Linked DNA regions of Homo sapiens. The protein of the gene in region 3 interacts with the protein of the main gene of each other region in a pairwise test. Each region holds a gene or a part of one and is shown on either strand. Other genes may lie near its edges.

The links.
Region 1: the proteins of ING5 (region 3) and FAM118B interact in a two-hybrid assay, tested with the Homo sapiens proteins (one large-scale study listed by BioGRID and IntAct).
Region 2: the proteins of ING5 (region 3) and GCSH interact in a two-hybrid assay, tested with the Homo sapiens proteins (one large-scale study listed by BioGRID and IntAct).

Annotation. Positions count from the first base shown.
Region 1 is NC_000011.10:126,249,722-126,253,373, forward strand, and holds part of FAM118B (protein FAM118B), read left to right. Parts: intron 1-784; coding exon 785-1,012; intron 1,013-3,652. UniProt on the Homo sapiens protein: May play a role in Cajal bodies formation.
Region 2 is NC_000016.10:81,086,249-81,089,900, reverse strand, and holds part of GCSH (glycine cleavage system H protein, mitochondrial precursor), read left to right. Parts: intron 1-2,236; coding exon 2,237-2,300; intron 2,301-3,652. UniProt on the Homo sapiens protein: The glycine cleavage system catalyzes the degradation of glycine. The H protein (GCSH) shuttles the methylamine group of glycine from the P protein (GLDC) to the T protein (GCST).
Region 3 is NC_000002.12:241,708,505-241,712,156, forward strand, and holds part of ING5 (inhibitor of growth protein 5), read left to right. Parts: intron 1-711; coding exon 712-878; intron 879-2,872; coding exon 2,873-2,984; intron 2,985-3,473; coding exon 3,474-3,567; intron 3,568-3,652. UniProt on the Homo sapiens protein: Component of the HBO1 complex, which specifically mediates acetylation of histone H3 at 'Lys-14' (H3K14ac) and, to a lower extent, acetylation of histone H4. Component of the MOZ/MORF complex which has a histone H3 acetyltransferase activity.

The DNA.
Region 1 (3,652 bases), on a different chromosome or scaffold from region 3:
ACTCCGTCTCAAAAAAAAAAAAAAAAAAAAAAAGAAAAAGAAAAGGAGATGCCAAACCACAATTAGGGCTGTGTCTCAGTGGCGTTTCCCTACATAAGGCAAGATGAACGGAAAGTGTTGCCTTCTTACCTGGCACCTCATGAGAGGGTAGTTGTCGCTCTGCTTTGTACCCCAGCTTCCCTTTAATACCGACAGTAAATTCATATCCCTTGGCCAGGTTTATTTTCTTCATTCTATAAAAATGCCTATTTTAGGAAGCTTACGTATAGTAGCACTTGCTATCTGCTAAGCATTGTGCTAAGCACTTGGCATGTATCATCTCATCTTCCTTATTACGTTCGTATGAGATAGATAATATTTTATCCCCGGGATTTTTTTTTTTTTTTTTGAGATGGAGTCTCGCTCCGTCGCCCAGGCTGGAGTGCAGTGACGCGATCTCGGCTCACTGCAAGCTCCGCCTCCTGGGTTCACACCATTCTCCTGCCTCAGCCTCCCAAGTAGCTGGGACTACAGGCGCCTGTCACCACGCCCTGCTAATTTTTTTTATTTTTAGTAGAGACGGGGTTTCACCGTGTTAGCCAGGATGGTCTCGATCTCCTGACCTCGTGATCCGCCCGCCTCGGTCTCCCAAAGTGCTGGGATTACAGGCGTGAGCCACTGCGCCTGGCCTTTATCTCTGTTTTGAATTCAAAATATTCTTCCAAAATTTGTTACTGCTGTAACTAAAACAACTGACCTACCAAAGCACTTTGGACTAATTTTCTTTTTTCAAATCCCTCCTCAGCGTACCAGTAATGTTCGATCCACATTTTTCAAGGACTGTTTATATGAAGTATTTGATGACTTGGAGTCAAAGATGGAAGATTCTGGAAAACAGCTACTTCAGTCAGTTCTCCACCTGATGGAAAATGGAGCCCTCGTATTAACTACAAATTTTGATAATCTCTTGGAACTGTATGCAGCAGATCAGGGGAAACAGCTTGAATCCCTTGACCTTACTGATGAGAAAAAGGTAAAAAGTAAAGCATTGGTCCCTTCTTCAGGCTAGTGGATTTTATCTTCCTCAGAAAAGCTCTTTTCTAGTTGGTATATTGGTATTTATGTAGAGCTAGAAAGGAAAAATTTTTTCCCTGGTTGGAGTTTTTGTTTTTCTTTTTTCTTTCTTTTTAAAGATCAAATCAATATACAGTAAAATGCATAGAACTTAAAAGTGTTCAGTTCTATGACTCTTGACAATTTCATCCAGTTTTAAAGCAAGATTAGAGGAAGTCACTTGAACTGTAAGATCTCTTTAGCACTTGACAGTATTCAGTGGTGTAATATTGATAATGCTGGTTCTATTTTAGGATACCTTTTTTTATGGCATCTATTGGAAATGTATGAAAACTACTTTATACTGATTGGAAGAACAACTTCCAGGCCAAGCGATGGCTGAATTGAGGTTAATGTTTAGTGGAAACCTCAGCAGACTTTGTTTTAGCATAGTCTATACTGTACCTACCATAATTATTGAATTATAGATGTTGATCTGTGTCAGCTAATGAGATGAGTTCTTAAAGTCTCATTGGTCCTACTCTGTGATTTTTGTAATGTTTTTTCCTACACTTTGTTTTCCTCAGGAATCTGCCTTTATGTCCAATTTAGAGCCCAACTAAGTAGAGTTGAATAGACAAGTGATTTGCCTGCTGGCATTCAGTACTACAGTATTGCCCCTGCCAGAGTGGTAGCTGAAATACCACTCTTGTGGTTTTGCTGACCTTGATGGCAGGATTTAAAGGGAATTGAATTTAGAGAAAAGCTGCCCCATGAAGACTAGTTTTCTCTGGTCCAAGTGTCTTCCGCCTACGCCCTCATATTCTGTATGGTCAGCTCCTTCTTCATTTATAACTCTCAACCTAGGGATCCCCTCCTGAGAGACCTTCTCTGACCATCCTATTTAAATTGGATACTTATTTTTTTTATCCAGTCTCTTGTCCGTTTCCTTTGTAGCACTTAGTATTAACTTGCAGCTTTTTTTTTTTTTTTTTGAGAGACAGTTTCGCTCTTGTTGCCCTGGGTTCAAGTGATTCTCCTGCCTCACCCTCCTGAGTAGCTGGGATTACAGGCATGTGCCACAACGCCCGGCTAATTTTGTATTTTTGGTAGAGACGGGGTTTCTCCATGTTGGTCAGGCTAGTCTCAAACTCCTGACCTCAGGTGATCTGCTAACCTCAGCCTCCCAAAGTACTGGGATTACAGGCATGTGCCTGGCCGTTTTGTTTTGTTTTGTTTTGTTTTGTTTTGAGATGGAGTTTTGCTCTTGTCGCCCAGGCTGAAGTGCAATGGCATGATCTCAGCTCACTGCAACCTCCTCCTCCTGGGTTCAAGCGATTCTCCTGCCTCAGCGTCCCGAATAGCTGGGATTACAGGCACCCGCCATCACGTCTGGCTAATTTTTGTATTTTCAGTAGAGACAGGGTTTCACCATGTTGGCCAGGCTGGTCTCGAACTCCTGACCTCAGGTGATCTGCCCACCTTAGCCTCCCAAAGTGCTGGGATTACAGGCATGAGCCACCACACCCAGCACAGTTTTTATCTTGGCTGTTTATCTGTTTTCTGACTGTTTACCCCATAGGAATAGTAACTTCACTTGGATAGGTATCATGTTAGTCTTTCTTACCCTCATAACTCAAATACAACCCTCATGTCTCAAATATGACAGTTAGGTGCTTGGTAAATATTTTTTTGATTAATAAATGATTGGGCTGGGCACAGCAGCTCAGGCCTGTAACCCCAGCACTTTGGGAAGCTGAGGCGGGAGGATCACTTGAGCCTAGTTCAAGACCAACCTGGGCATCATAGCAAGACCCCATCTCTACAAAAAGTTTAAAAATTAGCCGGGCATGGTGGTGTTTGCCTGTGGTCCCAGCTACTTGGGAGGCTGAAGCAGGACGATCGATTGAGCTGAGGCAGTCGAGGCTACAGTGAGTTGTGATCACACTGTTGCACTCCAGCCTGGGTGACAGCATAAGATCATGTCTCTAAATAAATAGGCTGGGCACAGTGGTTCACGTCTGTAATCCCAGCATTTTGGGTGGCCGAGGTGGGTGGATCACTTGAGGTCAGGATTTTGAGACCAGCCTGTCCAACATGGTGAAACCCCGTCTTTACTAAGAATACAAAAACTAGCTGGGAGTGGTGGTGCACGCCTGTAATCCCAGTTACTTGGGAGGCTGAGGCAGGAGAATCATTTGAACCCAGGAGGCAGAGGTTTCAGTGAGCCAAGATTGCGCCACTGTGCTCCAATCTGGGCAACAGACCAAGACTCTGTCTAAAAACAAACAAACAAATGATTGAAATTTTAAAACTAGCAGCTTCTATGCTATTTGTGATAAAATTTCCAAAGATTATGACCAAGTGTGTTCATGGATATCAGAAGCATAAGGACCTTTTAAAAGCTGAGGATATCTATCACATTTGATGTTTTCCTTCTCATTTCATCCTTGGGCCTCAAGATTTGCATTGTATTTTCAGCCCACATTAGGGGCAGTGTTGCAGTCTAATGGTTAAAGACATTGACTGGTAGTCAGAATGGGGCCTAGTAACATTCAAATTCTAAATCTCGGTGCCTCTTGACTACTTTCCTGATTCATAGCCTATTTCTCCAAAATGT
Region 2 (3,652 bases), on a different chromosome or scaffold from region 3:
CCATTTTGTGGGTCCAGTGATACACACGTGACCAGGAGGACGGGAAGAAAGAAAACCTCAATAGGCACAGATGACACAAAGGGAAGGCTTTTATTCAGCCCATCTTTTCTCTGTAAATTCCCCTCAATTCCATATGGCGATACTGTTTAAGAGAAAATGAGAAGCCAAATCCTAGCGTGTTCAGTGATTTTCAACTGGATGTATGTATTGGGTGAGGCGGGGAAGGGGGGATGTTAACTGATGGGAATGCACTCGTGTCACTTAATGATGGAGCTATGTTCTGATAACTGCCTCCTCGGGGATTGCGTCCTTCTGTGAGCCTCCTAGGGTGCCCTTACACACACCTAGATGGTACAGCCTATTACACACCTTGGCTGTATGGTACAGCCTTTGCTCCTGGGCTACAAACCTGTACAGCATGTTACTGTACTGAATACTGTAGGCAATCGTAACACACTTGGCCTATCAAAACACAGAAAAGGTACAGTAAAAATATGGCATAGGTTGAGCATCTCTAATCCCTGAAATACTCCAAAAATCTGAAACTTTTTGAGCACCAACGTGACTCTTAAAGAAAATGCTCATTGGAGCGTTTTGGATTCCAGAATCTTGGATGAGGAGTGCTCATGTATTAAGTATAATGCGAGTATTCCAAAATCTGAAATCCAAAACACTTCTGCTCCCAAGCATTTTGGACAAGTGATACTAACTATATTATAATTTCATGGGACCACTGTCATATATGTGGTCTGTTGTTGACCAAAATGCCATTAGGCGGCACGTGACTGTACAAAATTCCTCAGACATGTAAGATGCTTGTGTGTTGATAATCACAATTATATCTTCCTTGGCATCTCTGTATACCTACTATGAGGCCCAGTGTTGGATAGTTTTTGAGATGTTGTGTAAGATGTCGTCCTTACCTCCTAGAGTTTATTTGTGAGGGGAATTACCTACATGAGAATGACTTGCAAACATTACATGATGGCATCGGAACGGTGGGGTTGTAATTCACTTACCTGATGGAGAGACCACTTCTTTCTGGAGTCAGGGACTTCAGGGAGTACAAGGTGTGAGGACTATGATTTGTAGAATCAGTGAGCAGGATTTCAGCAAATGCTTTGGGGGCAATGGTGTACATAAAACTACAGAGGTGGAAGAACACCAAATATGTTCATGCCCAGAAGAGCTAGCAGTGTTTGCCGGGCGCAGTGGCTCACACCTGTAATCCTAGCACTTTGGAAGGCCGAGGCAAGTTGATTATCTGAGGTCAAAAGTTCAAGACCAGCTGGCCAACATGGTGAAACTGCATCTCTAGCAAAAAATTTTAAAAAATTAACCAGGCATGGTGGTGGGCACCTGTAATCCCAGCTACTTGGGAGGCTGAGGCAGGAGAATCGCTTGAACCTGGGAGGCAGAGGTTGCAGTGAGCTGAGATCAGGCCACTGCACTCCAGCCTGGGCAACAAGAGAGAAACTCTGTCTCAAAACCAAATAAAACAAAGAGCTAGCAGTCTTGTGTGGGGCAGGAGGCTTGTGTTAGGTTGCTAAAGCCTGTGAGCCAGATCTGGCTGGCGGCTGGTCTCTTGCAGCTCCTGAGTTGAGAATAGTTTTTTAAAATCATTTTATTTTACTTAGTTTTGGAGAACAGGGTCTTGCTATATTGCCAAGGCAGGTCTCAAACTCCTGGGCTCAAGCTATCCTCCCACCTCTGCCTCCCTAAGAGCTGGGATTACAGGCATGAGCCACCGCACCCAGCCATTTATTTTTATTCTTGACATGGAGTCTTGCTCTGTCGCCAAGGCTGGAGTATACAGGTGCAATCTCAACTCACTGCAACCTCTGCCTCCCAGATTTAAGTGATTCTCCTGCCTCAGCCTCCTGAGTAGCTGGGATTGCAAGTGCCTGCCACCACACCCAGCTAATTTTTGTATTTTTATTAGAGACTGGGTTTCACCATGTCAACCAGGCTGGTCTCGAACTTCTGACCTCATGTGATAACACCCACTTTGGGCCTTTCAAAGTGCTGGGATTACAGGCGTGAACTACCACACCTGACTGAGAGTAGTTTTTACATGTTTAAAGGATTTTAAGGAAAACTCAAGAATGTAGCCCCTCCAGTATAAAATATATACTAAATCTTCATTATAGGGGATTCAGTGTTTGGCTTATTCTGTTTACTGGAGGGTTTAGTTATAACTTCTTAGAGATTTTTGGTTTTGTCTTGTTTTATTTAGGAAGCGTTGGGAGATGTTGTTTATTGTAGTCTCCCTGAAGTTGGGACAAAATTGAACAAACAAGGTGAGTGTTCTTAGGATCTTAGAATGATCCATGCCATGAATTTTGTTTACATTGAATAGTAATTTGTTTGTACCCTGGATTAATTAGAGTGCTTTTTTTTTTTTGGAGACAGTCTTGCTTTGTCACCCAGGCTGGAGTGCAGTGGCACCATCTCGGCCCACTGTAACCTCTGCCTCCTGGGTTAAAGCGATTCTTGTGTCTCAGGCACGTGCCACCACGCCCAGCTAATTTTTGTATTGTAGAGACAGAGTTTCCCCATGTTGGCAAGGCTGGTCTCGAACTCCTGACCTCGAGTGATCCGCCCGCCTTGGCCTCCCAAAATGCTGAGATTACAAGTGTGAGCCACCGTGCCCAGCCAATTAGAGTGCTTTTGACCCAAGTATTAGGTTGGTGTAAAAGTAATTGCTACTCAGAGGCTGAGACAGGAGAATTGCTGGAACTTGGGAGGCGGAGGTTGCAGTGAGCCGAGATCCCATCACTGTACTCCAGCCTGGGCAACAGAGCAAGACTCCGTTTTAAAAAAAAGAGAGAAAAAAAGTCTATTAATATCGATATGTTAGATAATATCCTTAAACTAATGAATACCCTTTTAAGACATTCTGCTAAAGGTAGTTTTTTAACTTGATGTAAAATCTACATACAGTGAAATGCATGGACCAGAAGTGTACAATTCAGTGAGTTTTAACAAATGTATACACTTAAATAAACCTTCCTAGTCAAATAGATGACCTCTTCTCTCGTTTCTACACCATAGGTTTATTTTGCCTATTCTTTATATGAAAGGAATCACACAGTGTGTGTTACGTTTGGCTGCTTTTGGGATTTACCAAGCTTCTTGAATCTGTAGATTGAATTTTTTTTCGATTAAATTTGGAGACTTCTTATTTTAGTCATGATTTCTTTCTCTTCCCACTTCATTCCTTTTTCCTTCTCTGATTTGAGACATGTTCGTCATATCACTTGATATTGTCCTATAGGGTCCCTAAGACTGTTAACTTTTCAGCCTTTTTTAAACTGTTCTTTTTTTTTTCTTCTTATTTTTTTGAGACGGAGTCTTGCTCTGTTGCCCAGGCTGGAATGCGATGGTGCGACATTGGCTCACTGCAACCTCCGCCTCCTAGGTTCAAGCAATTCTCCTTTTTCAGCCACCCAAGTAGCTGGGAGTACAGGCATGCACAACCACACCAGGCTAATTTTTTAAATTAATTAATTTATTTATTTCGAGGTTTTGGTAGAGGCGGGGTTTCACCATGTTGGCCAGGCTGGTCTTGAACTCGTGACCTCAAGTGATCTACCCGCCTTGGCTTCCCAAAGTGTTGGGATTACAAGCATGAGCCGCCGTTCCTGGCCAG
Region 3 (3,652 bases):
CCTAGTTTTCTTACCCCTCTAAACTGAAGGGTTAAGAGTTGTGTCTGTTTCTGCTCTTCATATTAATGGAATCATCCAGTATGTTTTCTTTTGTTTCTTGCTCTTTTTGCTCCGTGTCACCTTCTCTGGGAATCATCCGTGTTGCTGTGTGTGGCTGTAGTTTGCTCTTTTTGTTGCTGAGTAGCACTCTGTTGTCTGAAGGGACCACAGCTTATTTCTCCATTTTACTGAGGATTGGACATTGGGGTTGTTTTCTGTTTTCTGCTCTTATGAATGTTTCCCGTGTGGATTTCTTTAGGTGACATAAGGTTTGTTTAGGGTATTTAAGAGTAGTGTGTTCTTTCTTGACTGCTCTACCGGAAAAAAAGAAAAGGGAAAAAAGAGTAGTATGCCAGGTCATAGGAAAGGTGGCTACAAGTTATTCATACAGGATGTTTGAGAGTCGAAGAAGGCACTGTGACCACTTGCTGTGTAACATTCAGAGCTGGGACTGTCCTGGGCACGTTGCCGTAAAGTCTGCACATTCACACGATCCCAGACTGTTTGTGCAGAACGGTTCTGCCCACTTGCGCTCCCACCAGCACAGCGTGAGTTCATGTCAGCCTACATCTTTGCCACAACTTGGCGTTGGCTGACTTTAGTTGTTGCCAGTCTGGTGAGCACATCATGGTGTCTTGTGCAGGGCTAGCTTTTCCCCCATTTCTCCATCAGATAAGAAAGCAGAGATTGACATCCTGGCTGCAGAGTACATCTCCACGGTGAAGACGCTGTCTCCAGACCAGCGCGTGGAGCGCCTGCAGAAGATCCAGAACGCCTACAGCAAGTGCAAGGAATACAGTGACGACAAAGTGCAGCTGGCCATGCAGACCTACGAGATGGTGAGGGCGGGGCGGGGGCCATGGCTCTTCCTCTGACCTCTACTCCTGCCTCTCATGCAACAAAATGTAAAAACTGCCCGGAAATGGGCATAGCCAAGTGGAAGGCTGGCTTTGGTAGCTGACGCTGCTGGAGGAAGTGCAGACGGAATACACTTCATGTAGGACCATCCCTGTTTTTTTTTTTTTTTTTTCTGGGCCCTTTTTGTTTGTGTATCTGCTCGGAGGAACCATTTGGGTTTTTTTTGAGACAGTCTCACTTTGTCGTCCACGGTGGAGTACAGTGGTGTGATTTCAGCTCAGTGCAACCTCCGCCTCCTAGGCTCAAGTGATTCTTGTGCCTTAGCCTCCCTAGTAGCTGTGATTACAGGCATGCAGCACCACACCCAGCTAATTTTTATATTTTTAGAAGAGACGGGGTTTCACCCTGTTGGCCATGCTGGTCTCGAACTCCTGACTTCAAGTGATCCACTCGCCTCAGCCTCCCAAAATACTGAGATTACAGGCATGAGCCACCGTGCCCGACCTCCAGGTGGCCATATTTTATTTTATTTATTTATTTTATTTATTTATTTATTTTTGAGACAGAGTCTTGCTCTGTCGCCCAGGCTGGAGTGCAGTGGTGTGATCACGGCTCACTGCAACCTCCACCTCCTGGGTTTAAGCGATTCTCCTGCCTCAGTCTCCCGAGTAGCTGAGATTACAGGCATGCAGTAGCCATACTTTATTATTATTATTATTTTTGAGATGGACTTTTGCTCTTGTTGCCCAGGCTGGAGTGCAATGGTGCTATCTCGGCTCACTGCAACCTGTGCCTCGCAGGTTCAAGCAATTCTCCTGCCTCAGCCTCCTGAGTAGCTAGGATTACAGTCACCCACCACGAAGCCTGGCTAATTTTTGTAGTTTTATTTTTTTATTTTTGTATTATTTATTTAGTTTTTGAGACAGGGCCTCACTGTGTCGCCCAGACTAGGGTGCAGTGGCATGGCTGCAGTTCAGTGCAACCTCCACTTCCCAGGCTCAAGCGATTCTCCTGCCTCAGCCTCCTAAGTAGCTGGGATTACAGGTGTGCACCACTACCAACAGGCTAATTTTTGTTTTTGGTTTTTGGTTTTTTTTTTTGAGACAGAGCTTCGCTCTTGTTGCTCAGGCTGGAGTGCAATGCCACGATCTTGGCTCACTGCAACCTCTGCCTCCTGGGTTCAAGCGATTCTCCGGCTTCAGCCTCCTGAGTAGCTGGGATTACAGGCATGCGCCACCAAGCCCGGCTAATTTTGTATTTTTGGTAGAGATGGGGTTGCTCCATGTTGGTCAGGCTGGTCCTGAACTCCCGACCTCAGGTGATTGACCTGCCTCAGCCTCCCAAAGTGCTGGGATTACAGGTATGAGCCACCGTGCCTGGCCTGTATTTTTAATAGAGATGGGGTTTTGCCATGTTGGCCAGGCTGGTCTTGAATTCCTGACCTCAAATGATCCACCTGCCTCGGTCTCCCAGAGTGCTGGGACTACAGGCGTGAGCCACCGCGCCTGCCCTAATTTTTGTATTTATTTTAGAGATGGGATTTTACCATGTTGGTCAGGCTGGTTTTGAACTCCTGACCTCAGGTGATCAGACTGCCTCGACCTCCCAAAGTGCTGGGATTACAGGTGTGAGCCGCTGCACCTGGCCTCCAGGTAGCCATATTTTAAAGTAGGGTTCAGCGTCAGATATCCCAGGCCTTGTTCACTGCATTTCACAACTCTGCTTCTCATTATTGCCCACACTCATGTCTTTTCCCTAAATGGGATTTATTCCATTGCAATGTCAAAATATGCAGAAAAAGCACAAGACCCTTGCATGGACTTTGAAATAGTGGGCCTTGTTTTAGCAGAGGTTTGTTCATTGGAGACTCAATTAAAGGGCAAGAAGGTGTTTCCTGGTGGATACTTTTGTACATTCGTGATTCTGAGGTGTTTTGGTTTTACTTTAAAATAAGACTTTGGGTATCCTTTTGTAGGTGGATAAACACATTCGAAGGCTTGATGCAGACCTGGCGCGCTTTGAAGCAGATCTGAAGGACAAGATGGAGGGCAGTGATTTTGAAAGCTCCGGAGGGCGAGGGTTAAAAAGCAAGTCTGTTAATTTTTTTTCTTTATTTTATTACTGTTAACTATGGAGTTTTGAAGAGTTTTGTCACGGTAAATCATTAAAGTATGATCACTAGGGTAAGTATCATATTTGGGTAAACCTTGTCTTGCAGGCTGGGTGTGGTGGCTTACGCCTGTAACCCCAGCACTTTGGGAGGCTGAGGCAGGAGGATCACTTGAGGCTAGGAGTTTGAGACCAACCTGGGCAACATAGCGAGACCTCATCTCAACAAAAAATTTAAAAATTAGCCAGGTGTGGTGGTGCACACCTGTGGTCCCAGCTACTCGGGAGGCTGAGGTGGGTGGATTGCTTGAGCCCGGGAGGTCAAGGCTGCGGTGAGCTATGATTGCTCCGCTGCACTCCAGCCAGCCTGGGAGACAGAGCGAGACCCCTTTTTAAAAACAAAACACAAAACTTGCCTTGCTTTAGAGAATTCTATAAAAATAATTTGCATCTTGATTATTTTTCAGAAGGCCGGGGTCAGAAAGAAAAAAGAGGGTCCCGGGGCCGAGGCAGGAGGACATCAGAGGAAGACACACCAAAGAAAAAGAAGCACAAAGGAGGGTAAGAGGCTTTCCCCTCTTTTTCCCAAAAGAACGAATACCCATAGCCTGTATCCCGGATGTAGGAACACTGATGGAAGCTGACC